2 linked regions of the Homo sapiens genome follow. The protein of the gene in region 2 interacts with the protein of the main gene of each other region in a biochemical or structural test. Each region holds a gene or a part of one and is shown on either strand. Other genes may lie near its edges.

Region 1 (7,759 bases), on a different chromosome or scaffold from region 2:
TAATTTTTTTGTATTTTTAGTAGAGACAAGGTTTCACCTTGTTAGCTAGGATGATCTCAGTCTCCTGACCTCGTGATCCGCCAGCCTCGGCCTCCCAAAGTGCTGGGATTACAGGCATGAGCCACTGCACCCAGCTGGAATGGATTCTAAGACAGTTTCAGAAACCAAAGAGGAAAAGAGGGATATATATAATTACCTGAAAATGTCTGTGACATAAATAAGATTAAAAGATAAATGAGGCCGGGCGTGGTGCGGTGGCTCACGCCTGTAATCCCAGCACTTTGGAAGGCAGAGGCAGGCAGATCACCTGAGGTCAGGAGTTTGAGACCAGCCTGGCCAACATGGCGAATCTCTGTCTCTACTAAAAGTACAAAAATTAGCCGGGCATGGTGGCGGGCACCTGTAATCCCAGCTACCCAGGAAGCTGAGGCAGGAGAATTGCTTGAACCCAGGAGGCAGAGGCTGCAGTGAGCCGAGATCACACCACTGCACTCTAGCCTGGGCGACAAGGGTGAGACTCTGTCTCCCAGGAAAAAAAAAAAGGATAAATGAAAGACAAGAAAAATACACGTGCCATATAACAAAGAATTAACATTCCATAAGCGCTCCTACAGGAGGAAAAAAAAAGAGAAAGAAAAATGAAGCAAGGACATGAGCAGACAATTCTCGGTAAAGGAAATCCAATGGCTATTATACGTATCAAATAAGGCTAGCCCCAGTAACAGGGAAGTTAAAATTAAGACAAACTGCATGACCCATTTATCATCTAGCAGACTAGTAAAAATTAAACTATGTATTTATACCCAGTGGTTTCATGATATGGAGAAGTTACTGCTATTTGGGATGAAAATTATGATAACCTATTTAGAGAGTAATCTAGCAATAATAATATTTAAAATATATTTCTCTGTTAACCCAGAATTCCCCCTTTGGAGACTACAGAAATAAAAGCATCAGCATATAAGGCGGCATGTACAAGGATATTTATTGTAGCACTTTGTTAAGTGGCAAAAATCTAGAAATGATCTAAATGTCCACAGGAAAATAATAAATTATGGTACATCCACGCTATAAGACACAATAGGACTGTTTAAAGGAACAAGATAGAATTATATTTACTGTGGGCTGAGTGCAGTGGCTCACACCTGTAATCTCAGCACTTTGGGAGGCCACAGGAGGCAGACTGCTCAAGTCCAGGAGTTTGAGACCAGCCTGAGCAATACAGCTATATCTCATCTCTTATTAAAAAACTAATAGGCTGGGAGCGGTGGCTCACACCTGTAATCCCAGCACTTTGGGAGGCCAAGGTAGGCGGATCATGAAGTCAGGAGATCAAGACCATCCTGGCTAACATGGTGAAACCCAATTCTACTAAAAATACAGAAAATTAGCGGGGTGTGGTGACAGGTGCCTGCAGTCCCAGCTACTCGGGAGGCTGATGCAGGAGAATGGCGTGAACCCAGGAAGCAGAGCATGCAGTGAGCCGAGACTGCGCCACTGCACTCCAGCCTTCGTGACAGAGCGAGGTTCCATCTTAAAAATAATAATAATAATAATAATAATAAAAAATTATATTGGCTGGGTGCGGTGGCTCACGCCTGTAACCCCAGCACTTTGGGAGGCCGATGCAGGCAGATTGCTCAAGCCCAGGAGTTCGAGATCAGCCTGAGCAACATAGCAAAATGTCATCTTTTAAAAAAATAATAATAAAGAATTATATTGCCGGGCACGGTGGCTCACGCCTGTAATCCCAGCACTTTGGGAGGCCGAGGCAGGTGGATCACGAGGTCAGGAGATCAAGACCATCCTGGTTAACATGGTGAAACTCTGTCTCTACTAAAAAAAAAAATACAAAAAAATTAGCCGGGTGTGGTGGTGGGCGCCTGTAGTCCCAGCTACTCGGGAGGCTGAGGCAGGAGAATGGCGTGAACCCAGGAGGTGGAGCTTGCAGTGAGCCGAGATCGCACCACTGCACTCTAGCCTGGGTGATAGAGCAAGACTCCCCATCTCAAAAAAAAAAAAAAAAAGAATTATATTGGCCAGGCACGGTGGCTCACACCTGTAATCCTAGCACTTTGGGAGGCCAAGGTGGGAGGATCATGTGAGGTCGGGAGTTCAAAACCAGCCTGACCAACATGGAGAAACCCCCCCGTCTCGGGTCGGGTGCGGGGGCTCACGCCTTTAATCCTAGCACTTTGGGAGGCCAAGGTGGGCAGATCACGAGGTCAGGAGATGGAGACCATCCTGGCTAACATGGTGAAACCCCATCTCTACTAAAAATACAGAACATTAGCCAGGCGTGGTGGTGGGTGCCTGTAGTCCCAGCTACTCGGGAGGCTGACGCAGGAGAATGGCGTGAACCTGGGAGGCAGAACTTGCAGTGAGCTGGGATCGCGCCACTGCACTCCAGCCTGGGCAACACAGCGAGACTCCGTCTCAAAAAAAAAAAAGAAAGAAACCCCATCTCTACTAAAAATACAAACTTAGCGGGGCATGGTGGCACATGTCTGTAATCCCAACTACTCGGGAGGCTGAGGCAGGAGAATCACTTGAACCTGGGAGGCGGAGGTTGCGGTGAGCTGAGATCACGCCATTGCACTCCAGCCTGGGCAGCAAAAGCAAAACTCCGTCTCAAAAAAACAAAACAAAAATGAATTATATTGGCTGGGCGCGGTGGCTCATGCCTGTAATCCCAGCACTTTGGGAGGCCAAGGCAGGCAGATCACTTAAGGTCAGGAGTTTGATACCAGCCAGGCCAACATGGCGAAACCTCATCTCTACTAAAAATACAAAAATTATCTGGGTGTGGTGGCAGGTGCCTATAATCCCAGCTACTCTGAAGTCTGAGGCAGGAGAATCACTGAACCCAGGAGGCGGAGATTCCCACCACCTGGGTGACAGGGTAAGACTCCATCTCAAAAAAAACAAACAAACAAAAAAAAAGAATTATATTTACTGACCATGACATGTTAAAAAAAAAAAAAAGCGTGTCATAGAGTAATATAAATAATATGATCTCTCTTTAGTAAAAACAAAAAATTCCTATGTACACTTACGTGAGTATGTACAGTACTTAACTAAGCATTGAGAGAAATATTGAAGCGTAAATTCATTCATAATCTGTTAAAATTTGGGGTTAAAATTAAGACTGTCATAGAACAGATGATGTAACACTACAGGGTAAACACTATAGGGTAAACATCCCTAATCCAAAATCTGAAATTCTCCAAAACCTGACATTTTTTGATTGTTGACATGATGCTTGAAGAAATGCTCTTCAAGGCCGGGCGCGGTGGGTCACGCCTGTTATCCCAGCAGGGGAGGCTGAGGCGGGCAGATCACAAGGTCAGGAGATCACGACCATCCTGGCTAACATGGTGAAAGCCCGTCTCTACTGAAAATACAAAAAATTAGCCAGGCGTGGTGGCGGGCGCCTGCAGTCCCAGCTACTCTGGAGACTGAGGCAGGAGAATGGCATGAACCCGGGAGGCGGAGCTTGCAGTGAGCCGAGATTGCGCCACTGCACTCCAGCCTGGGCGACAGGGCGAGACTCCGTAACCAAAAAAAAAAAAAAAAAAGAAAAGAAAAAAATGCTCTGCAAGTGTTTCAGATTTTGGATTTTAGGATTAGGGATGTACAAGTGGTGTAACGCAAATATTCCAAAATCTGAAAAAATCCAAAATATGAAACATTTCTGGTCTCAAGCATTTCAGATAAGAGATACTCAATGTGTATTTGGTTGAAAGAGCTAACTTATATAAATGATTATACAGTTGTACAACTCAAAGTAAAAGGAGTTCCATTAGTGTTTTTACAGCTCAAGTTAGTGAACCTATTTAACTAAACCTCAAAACTAAACAACTGAAAAAGTGTTCAGTCTTAAAAGGAAGCAAAAGAAGCGTTTTTTACTTACCTCTTTTTTTTGAGACAGTCTATCTCTGTCACCCAGGCTGGAGTGCAGTGGCACAGTCTTAGCTCACTGCAGCCTTGAACTCCTGGGTTCAAGTGATCTTCCTGCCTCAGGCTCCCAGGCAGCTAAGGCTACTGGCAAAGACACCACAACCCAGCTACTTTAAAAAATTTTGGGCCAGGCGCGGTAGCTCATGCCTGTAATCCCGGCACTTTGGGAGGCCGAGGTGGGTGGATCACCTGAGGTCAGGAGGTCAAGACCAGCCTGTCCAACATGGTGAAACCCCATCTCTACTAAAAGTACAAAAATTAACTGGGCATGGTGGCGGGCGCCTGTAATTCTAGCTACTTGGGAGGCTGAGGCAGAAGAATCGCTTGAACCCAGGAGGCGGAGGTTGAGGTGAGCCGAGATCGCACCACTGCACTCCAGCCTGGGTGACAGAGCAAGACTCTGTCTCAAAAAAAAAATTCGTACAGCCAGAGTCCCACTGTGTTTCCCAGGCTGGTTTCAAACTCCTGTCCTCAAGTGATCCTTCTGACTTGGCTTCCCAAAGTACTGGGATTACAGACATGAGCCACCAGGTCTGGCCAGCGAAGTTTATTTTTAGGTTGAGAAAACACGTAACATCTTTACATATCTTTGAAAGATTTAAAATATTTTAGCCAGGCTCGGTGGCTCACACCTATAATCCCAGCACTTTGGGAGGCTGAAGCAGGTGAATCACCTGAGGTCAGGATTTCGAGACCAGCCTGGCCAACGTGACAAAACCCCGTCTCCACTAAAAATACAAAAAGTAGCCAGGTACAGTGGTGCACGCCTGCAGTCCCAGCTACTCGGGAGGCTGAGCACAAGAATCGCGGGAACCCAGGAGGTAGAGGCTGTAGTAAGCTGAGATGGCACCACTGCACTCCAGCCTGGGTGACAGAGTGAGACTCTGTCTCAAAAAGAATAAATAAATAAATAATAAGATGTTTTTATTTATAAATTACAAAAGTCACATGTATTTTTTCCTCATCTTTTAAAAAAATGACTTCTTCCTTCTAAACCTACTTAATTTGTTGCCAACATTTATGATTTACTAATTAAATCTCTCCAATGGTCTGAGTAGGCTTTTTTTTAAAGTAAAATTTCCAAGTACCTAGTGAAAAAAAGCATTTCTCATTTCAATCATCTCATCCTAAACCTTGCCCTTTTATGCTAAAGTGTTAGTTAATGCTGACTCAACACATTTGGCAAGTGAGTTTTTTTTCTCCCACTTCTGGACCCTTCAAACTTTAACCAGTTTTTCCAGCAACCAAAACTCATGCCATATTAAGTGTATTGTGTTACTAGGTCAGTGAAGAAAAAAACTTAACACGTATCTTCAAAGTAAAAATGACACCTCATTCATGCCTGTAATCCCAGCACTTTGGGAGGCCAAGGCTGGTGGATCACTTGAGCCCAGGAATTCAAGATCAGCCTGGTCAACAGGGTGAAGCCCTGTCTCTACTAAAAATACAAAAATTAGCTAGGCATGGTGGCGCACACCTGTAGTCCCAGCTACTCGGGAGGCTGAGGCAGAAGAATTGCTTGAACCAGGGGGCGGAGGTTGCAGTAAGCAGAGATGGCTCCGATGCACTCCAGCCTGGGCAACAGAGGAGGACTCCGTCTCAAAAAAAAAAAAAAAAAAGACACCTCTTTTCCCTTTTCTATTTCTTGACCTCATTGAAATAAAATTTTCTATACAAAAAGGCAACTGTAAAAATGCTACTACATTTTGATAAACATATTTTATTTATTTATTTTTTTTTTGGAGACAAGAGTCTCGCTCTGTCCCCAGGCTGGAGTGCAGTGGCGTGATCTCAGCTCACCACAACCTCCACCTCCCAGGTTCAAGTGATTCTCCTGCCTCAGTCTCCCGAGTAGCTGGGACTACAGGCGCGCACCATCATGCCCAGCTAATTTTTCTATTTTTTTGTAGAGATGGGGTTTAACCATGTTGGCCAGGATGGTCTCGATCTCCTGACCTCGTGATCCACCCGCCTCGGCCTCCCAAAGTGCTGGGATTACAGGCATGAGCCACCTCGCCCAGCCAACAAAGATCATTTCAAAACCTGTAAGCCAAGAAATACAAAAGATTTCTATATGCTCTCTTAATTTTTTTTTTTTTTTTTTGAGACAGAGCCTCCATCTGTCACCCAGGCTGGAGTGCAGTGGCGTGATCTCAGCTCACTGCAACCTCCACCTCCCTGTTCAAGCAATCCTCCCACCTGAGCCTCCTAAGTAGCTGGGAATGCAGGTGCACATCACCATGCCCGGCTAACTTTTGTATTTTTAGTACAGACGGGATTTCATCATGTTGACCAGGCTAGTATCAAACTCCTGACCTCAAGTGATCCGCCTGCCTCGGCCTCCCAAAGTGCTGGGATTACAGGCATGAACCACTGCACCAGCCTGCTCTCTTAAGTTTAAAATTGCTTGTGGGCAAGGCATGGTGGCACACACCTTTAATACCAGCACTTTGGGAGACAGAGGTGGGAGGACCTCTTGAGCCCAGGAATTTGAAACCAGCCTGGGCAACATGGCGAATCCCCGTCTCCACAAAAAAATAATAAATCAGGCGGCACATGCCTACAGTCCCAGCTACTTAGGAGGCTGAAGTGGGAGGATCACTTGAACCTGGGAGGAGGTCGAGGCTGCAGTGAGCTGAGATTGCACCACTGCACTCCAGCCTGGGTGAAAGAGTGAGAACCTGTCTCAATCAATCAATCAATAAAAATAAAATTGCTTGTTACTTATAAGCTGAGAGGAGTTGAAAAAAAATTGTTTGCTACTTTCAACATTATTCTGCATTAGAAACTGAGTAAAAGCAACAGAGAATAAAGAAAGCCAAAATCAAGAACCGAAAACAGACTGAACGCAGTGGCTCCTCCTGCCTGTAATCCCAGCACTTTGGGAGGCCAAGGTGGGTGGATCACTTGAGCTCAGGAGTTCGAGACCAGCCTAGCCAACATGGTGAAACCCCGCCTCTACTAAAAATACAAAAATTAGCTGGGCATGGTGGCGCACGCTTGTAATCCCAGCTACTCGGGAGGCTGAGGCAGCAGAAATCACTGGAATCCAGGAGGTGGAGGTTGCACAGTGAGCCGAGATCGAGCCACTGCACTCCAGCCTGGGAGACAGAGTAAGACTTTGTCTCAAAAAACAAACAAAAAAGAACTGAAAACAATTCATAAAGCAAGGACAGACTAAATTACAAACACCTAAAACAGTATTTTTAAATGTTCTGAAGCTCTAAGTAAGAGTTTTAAAGTTTTGATAGCAATTAAGTCCTGCTATATACACAAAATTTTAAAATCCTCATCAAATGCAAATAAGGGGATTAAGCATTGTGGAAAATCTGTTTTGGTATGTAGATTGCCAATTCAATTTTTTTAATTAAAAATAATATCTTGGAAAATACTCATTCAACTTTTTAAATTTGTATAAATTAAAAGTTTTGGCCAGGTGAGGTGGCTCACACCTGTAATCTCAGCACTTTGCGAGGCCGAGGCAAGAGGATTGCTTGAGCCCAGCCTGGGCAACATGACAAAACACTATCTATACAAAAAATACAAAAATTAGCCCTGCGTGGTAGCACACGCCTGTAGTCCCAGCTACGTGGAGGGCTGAGGCAGGAGGATCGCTTGAGTCCAGGAGGTCCAGGCTGCAGTGAGCTGAGACCACTGCACTCCAGCCTGGGCAACAGAGTGAGACCCTGTCTCAAACAATAAAAATAATAAAAAAAAAAAAAAAGAGTTTTTATAAATCATAAAGAAGTTGGTTTTGTTTGCATACCACTGATTTTTAAAACTCCTTTTTTAAATAAAC
Region 2 (7,759 bases):
CATCCTATACATATTTAACATACAGTAGCCTCCTTTGACACTCACAAATTTAATCACATCTCTTATTCCTAAGAAATTATTAGGTAGAAACGACTTTGTGTTAGTTTGAAAGAAGTCCATAACCCTCAGAAAGAACTGGATTGCAGAAAGGTCAAATACGGAAGCCTAAGATTTCTAAATTCTTCCTGAATCAGGTATTTACAGTACAATGTAAATATTTTTGTTGAAAATACACTTTCAGAATATCTAACACATACACATAAATATGCACAAACTTAGTAAATATAAAGCAGATATAGAGATTTATGTATTATCTCCCATTTCGAATTATCCATATATTTTTATGCATCCTTCCTCTATCTAGAATGACTCCATGGGAGCTCATTAACCTGTTTCCCCACCTCCAAAAAAAACCGACTCAAAGTTACCTGTTTCAAATTAATGTATTTTAACTTTGATATCAATTTCCTGATGTAGCTACAACAAAGAATAACTAAAATTTAAAAGGTTGCTTTCTATCCCACTTCCAGATTAAAATTAAAAAGACACACTTCTCCCTATTTCTATCAATAAATAGAGCTAAAAAGTTTGGACATTTTATTAAAACAAATTTAAGAGGATTCTGGAATGCAGAGGGAAGGCAGACTAACTAGGGACCTGGGAATCCAAGGAATGACAAAGCAGTGAGTTCTGTGAGTTTTCTTTTAGCCTCATATATCCCAAACTGGGGAGTGGAATAGCCAGCAACCAGGAAACACCAACAGGCACAAAAGCCCCAATAAAAGTCAATCCTCTGTAACAAAAGGGCCATCCATGAAAGGCACAATCTAGCAAGACAGAAAACTTTTAGACAATAAACATCCTACACCAACCAAATACCATGGAAAAAAAATTTAAAAAAAAACACGCATGGCCCTAACTTTGAAACTTTTAATCAACAGTAAACAATGACTCAAACAAAATACTTTCTTCTAAATAGTCATAGTGTAGGCCTATTGAACAATGTCCCTATAGGACACTGAAAAGACACACTGCTCACCTTTTTCCTTATTTCCAAGTTTCGCCTTTATTTTTAAACCACCTCTGTCACAAAAGGCCGAGTACTGAGCCTAGATTTCCACTCTCGCCCCAGCAACAATGCAGTGCCCATAGATGACCTCGATGTGGTATCAGAGAAAACCAAGTGGTTGTGAAGACAGTTTTAGGACTTCTATCCCCATCCAAAAGGAAAAAGACTCTCTCTCCCTCCTTTCCTGTGTCAGAGGAAGCTGAGTGGGAAGCCAGAACTTTTATAACTATCCAGAGGTAAGAAGATCTCACCTAATCTCACAGTAAGGCACCCGTGGAACAGTAATAAGGTGCCTCTCCTGCTCCCAGCCAGGGATGTATCTGCTAAGGCCTGTGGGAGCCCTGAAATCCCACCTTATCTCAGGAGTAAGGCAGTATCCCTCCTACCCAGGGTGTCAAAGGGGGCTGAGTGGAAAACTTGTCATTTTACTTGCACCTGACATTAACAAAATGGTTAATCTTTTCCCAAACTATACAGTATCAGATGAGGCCTGCTAAAATACAAGATTTAAATAAGATCCAAGGTATCATACAAAATACCCAAAATATGCAGGATAAAATTAAAATGCACTCATCATACTAAGAATCAGAAAAATCTCAACTTGGGTAAGAAAATACTATCAATAGTAACACTGAGATGACATTTTTCTAACAAGGATTTTAAAGCAACCATAATAAAAATGCTTCGGCAGGGAATTATGAAACATGCTTGAAACAAACAGAATAGAAAGTTTAAGCACAGAATGGAAGATATGAAGGAGAACCAAATGGAAATTTTAGAACTGAAATATACAATAACCAAATAAAAAACAAAGAATTGGCACATCAAATGAATGGAAGGGACTGAGGATAGAAATGCTTTCCTCAGAGATGGTATGGTGACATACAAACTGAACAGTATGCCTACTTTAACTTCGATTTGGCTATGAGACCTCCTGGTACATTTTTCTATAATTTATTTAGCCAAGGTGTTTAACACTCCGTAAGTTACTCTTTTATTCCCATGCTATAAAAAGGAGAGAGAAGCCTATAGGTCCTAAAATGAAGTCATCTGAAAAAAGTTTTCTTTGAAAGTACTGATTCCTACAAAAGGAACTAGCTTTGAAGACTCAAGTCATCACTCCTAGATTATCACTATTAATAGTAAACGCAGTGAGACAACAATGATAATGCCAGATAGCATTTATATTGGTCATTAATGTAAAAACAACCCAAAGTGATATACGTTAAGTCTCACGTAGTCTCTCTGATATGTTACTGTTCCCATTTATAGATGGAAAAACTGAACTCTCAAAGATGTATGTCTCACTAAAGGGTCCAGAATAAGTCATTCAGTGGAGACAAAGAAACACAAAGTTATCTCATTATTCAGTACTATGCCTTTTAATCAGCACCATAGTTCCAAGGATGAGGTCAGTAAGTGTGGCTATACACAATGTAATTAGTCCTTGGGGAGCAGGGTGCATGATATTAGTTCATCTATTCAATTCATCCAACAGTATTCATTGAACATGCACTATATGCCAAGTACTACTGGGAAGGAAAACTCCTTAATCTCAAGGAATTTACACTGTAGTGGAGAAAAGACAGAAAATAAACAAATCAAAATAAAATAACAGGTAGGAATAAGCGGTATGGAAAAGAAAAAAATAAAAAGGGCTAGGGGATGCTGAGCAAGTACAAAGGGCCTTATTTTATACAGCACGATTAAGAAAAGCCTCCACAAGAGTAGCATTTGAGCAAATATCAGAAGGAAGCTAGAGTTCAGCGAGAGCTGTTAAAAGTATAATTTTCAAAAAGTTAATCTGACTCATGTAAATACCAATTGAAGATATACCAAAGATTTATTCTGTTCATTTACTAATGAATTAATCATTTATCTTAAGACTGAATGAATATTAAGACTGGTTCAAGAAGCATTTGAAGAACAGGATTTATATAGGAAATTTAACAATGGAGTGTTAACTAGGAGCAATAGGTTAGAGACGAAACTGGTTAATATCCTATAAGACCGAATGAATAAGATGCTAAGACTGGTTTAAGCAGCATGTGAAGAACAGGATTTAGATAGGAAATTTAACAACATGGAGTGTTGGACTAAAAGCACTAGGTTAGAGATAAAACTTGTTAATATCCTACAGGGCAATTAATTATATTCTTAGAAGTTATCTTTTCTAACAGACAGAATTATTCGCATCTCTTCAGGGGAAAAAATCTATAAATTAACATGTAACTTCACTACATCTGAGACTTTTATTCAAGAATAAACAGTGAGTCAAATAAAGTACTTTCTCCTAAGTACTCCTGAGGTGGGCACATTAAACAATGTCATCACAGGCACTGAAAAGACACACTGCCTGCGTTTTTCTTATTTCCAAGTTTTGTATTTTTAAGAAACTTATCTACAGGAGGAACAGCATTCCAGGCAGAGATATGTGAGTGAATCATGGACCATACCCCTCCAACAGGCAAAGAATGTCCTTCCCCACGCATACTCACACATTCACCTATACCTTATTATAAAGCTTGGTGTAAATAAATACCTGAGGGTAAACTGGAGAAGCTTGAAAATGTATATTGGAATGAAAATAGGAATTGAGTCTGGGATCTGATTTGATTTACATTTTTAAAACACTACTCTTACCTGCTGAATTAAAAACTCATGAAGGAAAAGAACAAGGATGGAAGCCAGAAGACCACTTAGGAGACTATTACAGTGATCCAGGCAAATAAACAAGTAAATATATAATTTGTCAAATGTAAAAGGTGCTAGGAATAAAAATAAAGCAGACTATGATAAGGTGGATGGAGAGGATGTCAGCATTGTCTGGAAAGGCTTATCTGATAAGGTAATACTTGAACAGAGACTTGAAGGCTATGAAGAAAACCATGCAGGTATCTGAGGGAATCTGAGCACTCTGGACATTAGGAAAAAGAAAAATGACTGAGGAAAAAGAGGCAAGGAAAAGAGAGGAAGAAGGGACATAAGGGAACACAGAGCCTTGAAAACCAGTTTAAGGACCTGGCTTTTAGTGTGGGAAAGATAAGAAGCCCACGAAGGTTTTAGAACAGAATAATGACATGACTAGCTTTAAGTTTCAATCAGATCACAGTGGCTGCAATGGGGGGAATGGTCTGCACGTGGGCAGTGACAAAAACAAAAGACTAGTTAGAATATACTTTAGTAATCCAAGGGAGAAATAATGATAATATACAATATGTTAATAGCGCTGACCATGATGATAAATGGTTGAAACCTGGATATTCTGAAGGTACAGCCAACAAATCCTGCTAAAGAAACAGACATTGAGTAAGTACAAAAAGGAATGAGTTAGTTTTAGTCTTAGCAATTAGAAAGATGGAGTTGCCATTTACTGTGTTAGGTTAGACTGTAGAAGAAATAAATAAGAAAATTTAGGAAGGAGAAAAGGAGACAATTTATTTAAAAAAGTTAAGTGTCTCAGTTCTGGATTACAGGATTCTAAATGTAATTCAAATGTAATTATTATAACAAAAATTAGAATAAACAGTTCCCAAAATGTATCCATCAGAAACAGAATATTTCTTACCAAATTGTTTGGGCCTCAAACTACTAATCCTCAGGGCTGCTCACAGACTCATATTTTTCAAAATGGGTGTCTTCCCATTAATTTAGCCCATGTTGGTCAGTTTTATATATTTAAGCAAGTATCTGATTCTTCATTCATAAGATATTCATTATGCACTTTTTGAAATTATAGCACATGCTTCATCAAAAGGCTTACATTTTAAATCTTAAGTTCAATCGCCTTACCTGAAGTTCTTTGTATCTATCTTGAAAAGAAATGGCCTCTTGCTCTTTTTCTTTTAGAAAGCCTTTTTCTAAGACATTATGCTTTTCCATCAATGATTCCACATCCTAAAATAAAAATACAAATACAAGCTTTGTAATATTTAATGGCATAAAATATAATTAGTTTTTTCAATGAACATGTCAGAAAACATTTGTCAGAGAAAGAATCCATGGGAAGTACGGCTTAAAATCTAACAATATTATAAATTATATGCTTCACTCTAATTTCTAGGCCAATATCAAACATGGACACAACATTTACTCATTCCAACAAATGAATATGAGCATCTCAACTAATTTCATCAACATAATCTACCTCTACATACACTTTCTATAAATTTGCTATATATTCACAGGGAAGAAAGCATAAGTAAAGAATTTACTAAAATGGCTGTATACCTAAGTACTCTTGTCAAATATCCTGTGATGCCTAACTTCCCATAGGGAAAAGTTGATGTCGCAAAATTTCACCTCCTCATAAGAAACACAATACTACCTGCTTTCAAAGTAAATAAAAATAAACCAAAAAAGAAAGCAATAGTTAGAAAAAACCTAGTAAACGATGTTCATATCTTTAAAAGTACATATGTAAAATATATTTCTTATCAAAGGCTTTTCTAAGTGATAAGCTCATGACTGCTTTAAACCTACAACCAAGGGAGAAAAGTATCTTCTTCCTCTGATGAGTTTTTAATCAGAGTTTGAGATTATATCAAATTTCTAATATTTGCAATTCAAACATTTCTTAGGCAAATGTAAATATACCTGTTTAATTCTCTGTTTTTCTTCTTCAGATACTTTGAGTTTAATCTCCAGACTTGAAATTTTTTGCTGAAGCTGTATGTTAGATACATTGGCTCCAGGATCCTCAGAATCATCCACAAGGGCAATTGTTCCATTACTTTTTTCATCAGTTAAACCCAATGGAAAAAGTGAGATATCCAGATGAGTGTGTGTTGATTGCTGAATCTAAACCACATAAAAAAAAAAATACACAAGAGAGGAAAGTTTACACTATACCAATAATGAAAACATCCAAAGGGCACTAGAAACCACATTTGGAAATTAAGTTGTTGAAAAGGTTCCGAAATTATTTCACCCTTTAAGTAAATCAAGAGAAGACCTCAAACTTTTACAACAACCCGATCTTTGCTGTAAGAAACAAAATTTCCTCTTAATTTTGAAATCTAAAGTATTCATTATTTTGCTACCAATGCACTAAAAGACTTAACTTTTTCCTGTGCTTGAAAATGTATGAATAAGGATAGACATATCTGGTTGTTAACAGTTCTTAAATTTACACACAGACCTAGAATTTGTTTATATTTTAAACTGTAAATCAAACTCTGAAATTTATCAATGACCTCTATTGATCACCACTGTCTCGCAAAATTAACAGGTGACTCAAAATTGTGTACAGCACTTTAGAAATTGGGACTACCTTCAGCAGCTAGCATAAATTCTTGCTTTAAAAAATATTTGAATGAATAAACCTTATAACTGCTATATTTTTGGTTTTTACTCTAAAATTGAAATAGTTGCTTGAATACCTGAAAATGTGCGGTAAGATTCGCTGAAAAGAGAAATACTTATTCTTCTTTGTATTATTTTCCCTTTTCAAGTTCAAGATTTGAAATGCAAAGCCAAGTAAAGTTTAATAAATGAGATACTCAAATCATACTTTGGTAACTAAGGCTACTTAAATACTTTGCAATTGTGCCACGACACAAACATATTATATAGTTTTTTTGAATTCTAAGTATTAGCCTCAAAATTAGAATATCTATTGCAGAAATACTTCTTTTAGACAAATAGGCTAAAAAAGAAATTAAAAAAGCAACAATTAAATTAGCAGGCAATTTTTTAAATATGCAAACCTCCTTTAAAAATATGTTTGTCTTTACCTGTGCTTTTGGAATAGTTTGACTCACAATGCTATTTGCTGCATGTGTATTCTCTGGTGATGAAATAATGGCATCAGAAGAGAGGCAGCCAATGGAAGAAGAGTGGTCACGGTCCAGTACAATCTCAGGAGAAGATGGTGAAAGATGGACTCCAGATACTAAAGAAAAACAACAACAACAAAAAGGATAGGATTATTAAAGAGAAAACAGAGAGGGAACAGGTTGAAAGGAAGAAAGAGAGCTGAAATAGAGGAAAAGAAAAAAGTAAGGAAAGTAAAAGCAATGAGAGTGAAAAATCAGGATTCTATGACTATTCCTCAGGGCCCAATCTGTGAAAGCTAAAACTAGTGTTTTTAATTTAACATGACACTTCCATGTAAGATCCAGGCAAACAAAATAGTTTTATAAAGTCTTAGTGTTTACATACCAACACAGTGCCATAAGGAGTACATTTCCAACATAGAGAAAATACTCATATATATATATTATATATTCATACATTTCATTCAGAAAAATCCATTTAATTTTTTTAAAAAGCGCTAGAGTACCTACCAGTGCCAGTCACAGGCATTAGGGACTGAAGAGACAGCAGTGAGCAATACAGATGCACCCATGTACTCAATGGCTTTATGACTCGGTAGGCAAGTCAACCAATTAATATTTATTACAATAAAATAAGTAAGGGGAAAGAACAATTACTTTGAAACAACTAATCCAACAATATCTGCATTAAAGTCTCTTTTGTAACAAACAAAAGGTTTTTCATGCTAAAATAAAGTCAGTTTAAGTTTGCTGAATTGTCCATACAGAAAAATAATAACTTTTCTTTTCTTTTTCAATTAGCTTTAAGAAAAATAGATTGTGATTAGAGCTCAAATATAAAGGTCCTGAAAGGGAATCCAAATATCAAGTATGACATAGGACAAAAGTACGGATATAAGCAAGATAAACATGT

Evidence for each region. The genes of interacting proteins can lie anywhere in the genome.
Region 1: the proteins of CCDC91 (region 2) and AP1G1 form a complex in vitro, tested with the Homo sapiens proteins (one study listed by BioGRID).

The regions. Positions count from the first base shown.
Region 1 is NC_000016.10:71,798,363-71,806,121, forward strand, and holds part of AP1G1 (AP-1 complex subunit gamma-1), read right to left. Parts: intron 1-7,759. UniProt on the Homo sapiens protein: Subunit of clathrin-associated adaptor protein complex 1 that plays a role in protein sorting in the late-Golgi/trans-Golgi network (TGN) and/or endosomes.
Region 2 is NC_000012.12:28,304,852-28,312,610, reverse strand, and holds part of CCDC91 (coiled-coil domain-containing protein 91), read right to left. Parts: intron 6,963-7,759; coding exon 6,805-6,962; intron 5,870-6,804; coding exon 5,666-5,869; intron 4,967-5,665; coding exon 4,862-4,966; intron 1-4,861. UniProt on the Homo sapiens protein: Involved in the regulation of membrane traffic through the trans-Golgi network (TGN). Functions in close cooperation with the GGAs in the sorting of hydrolases to lysosomes.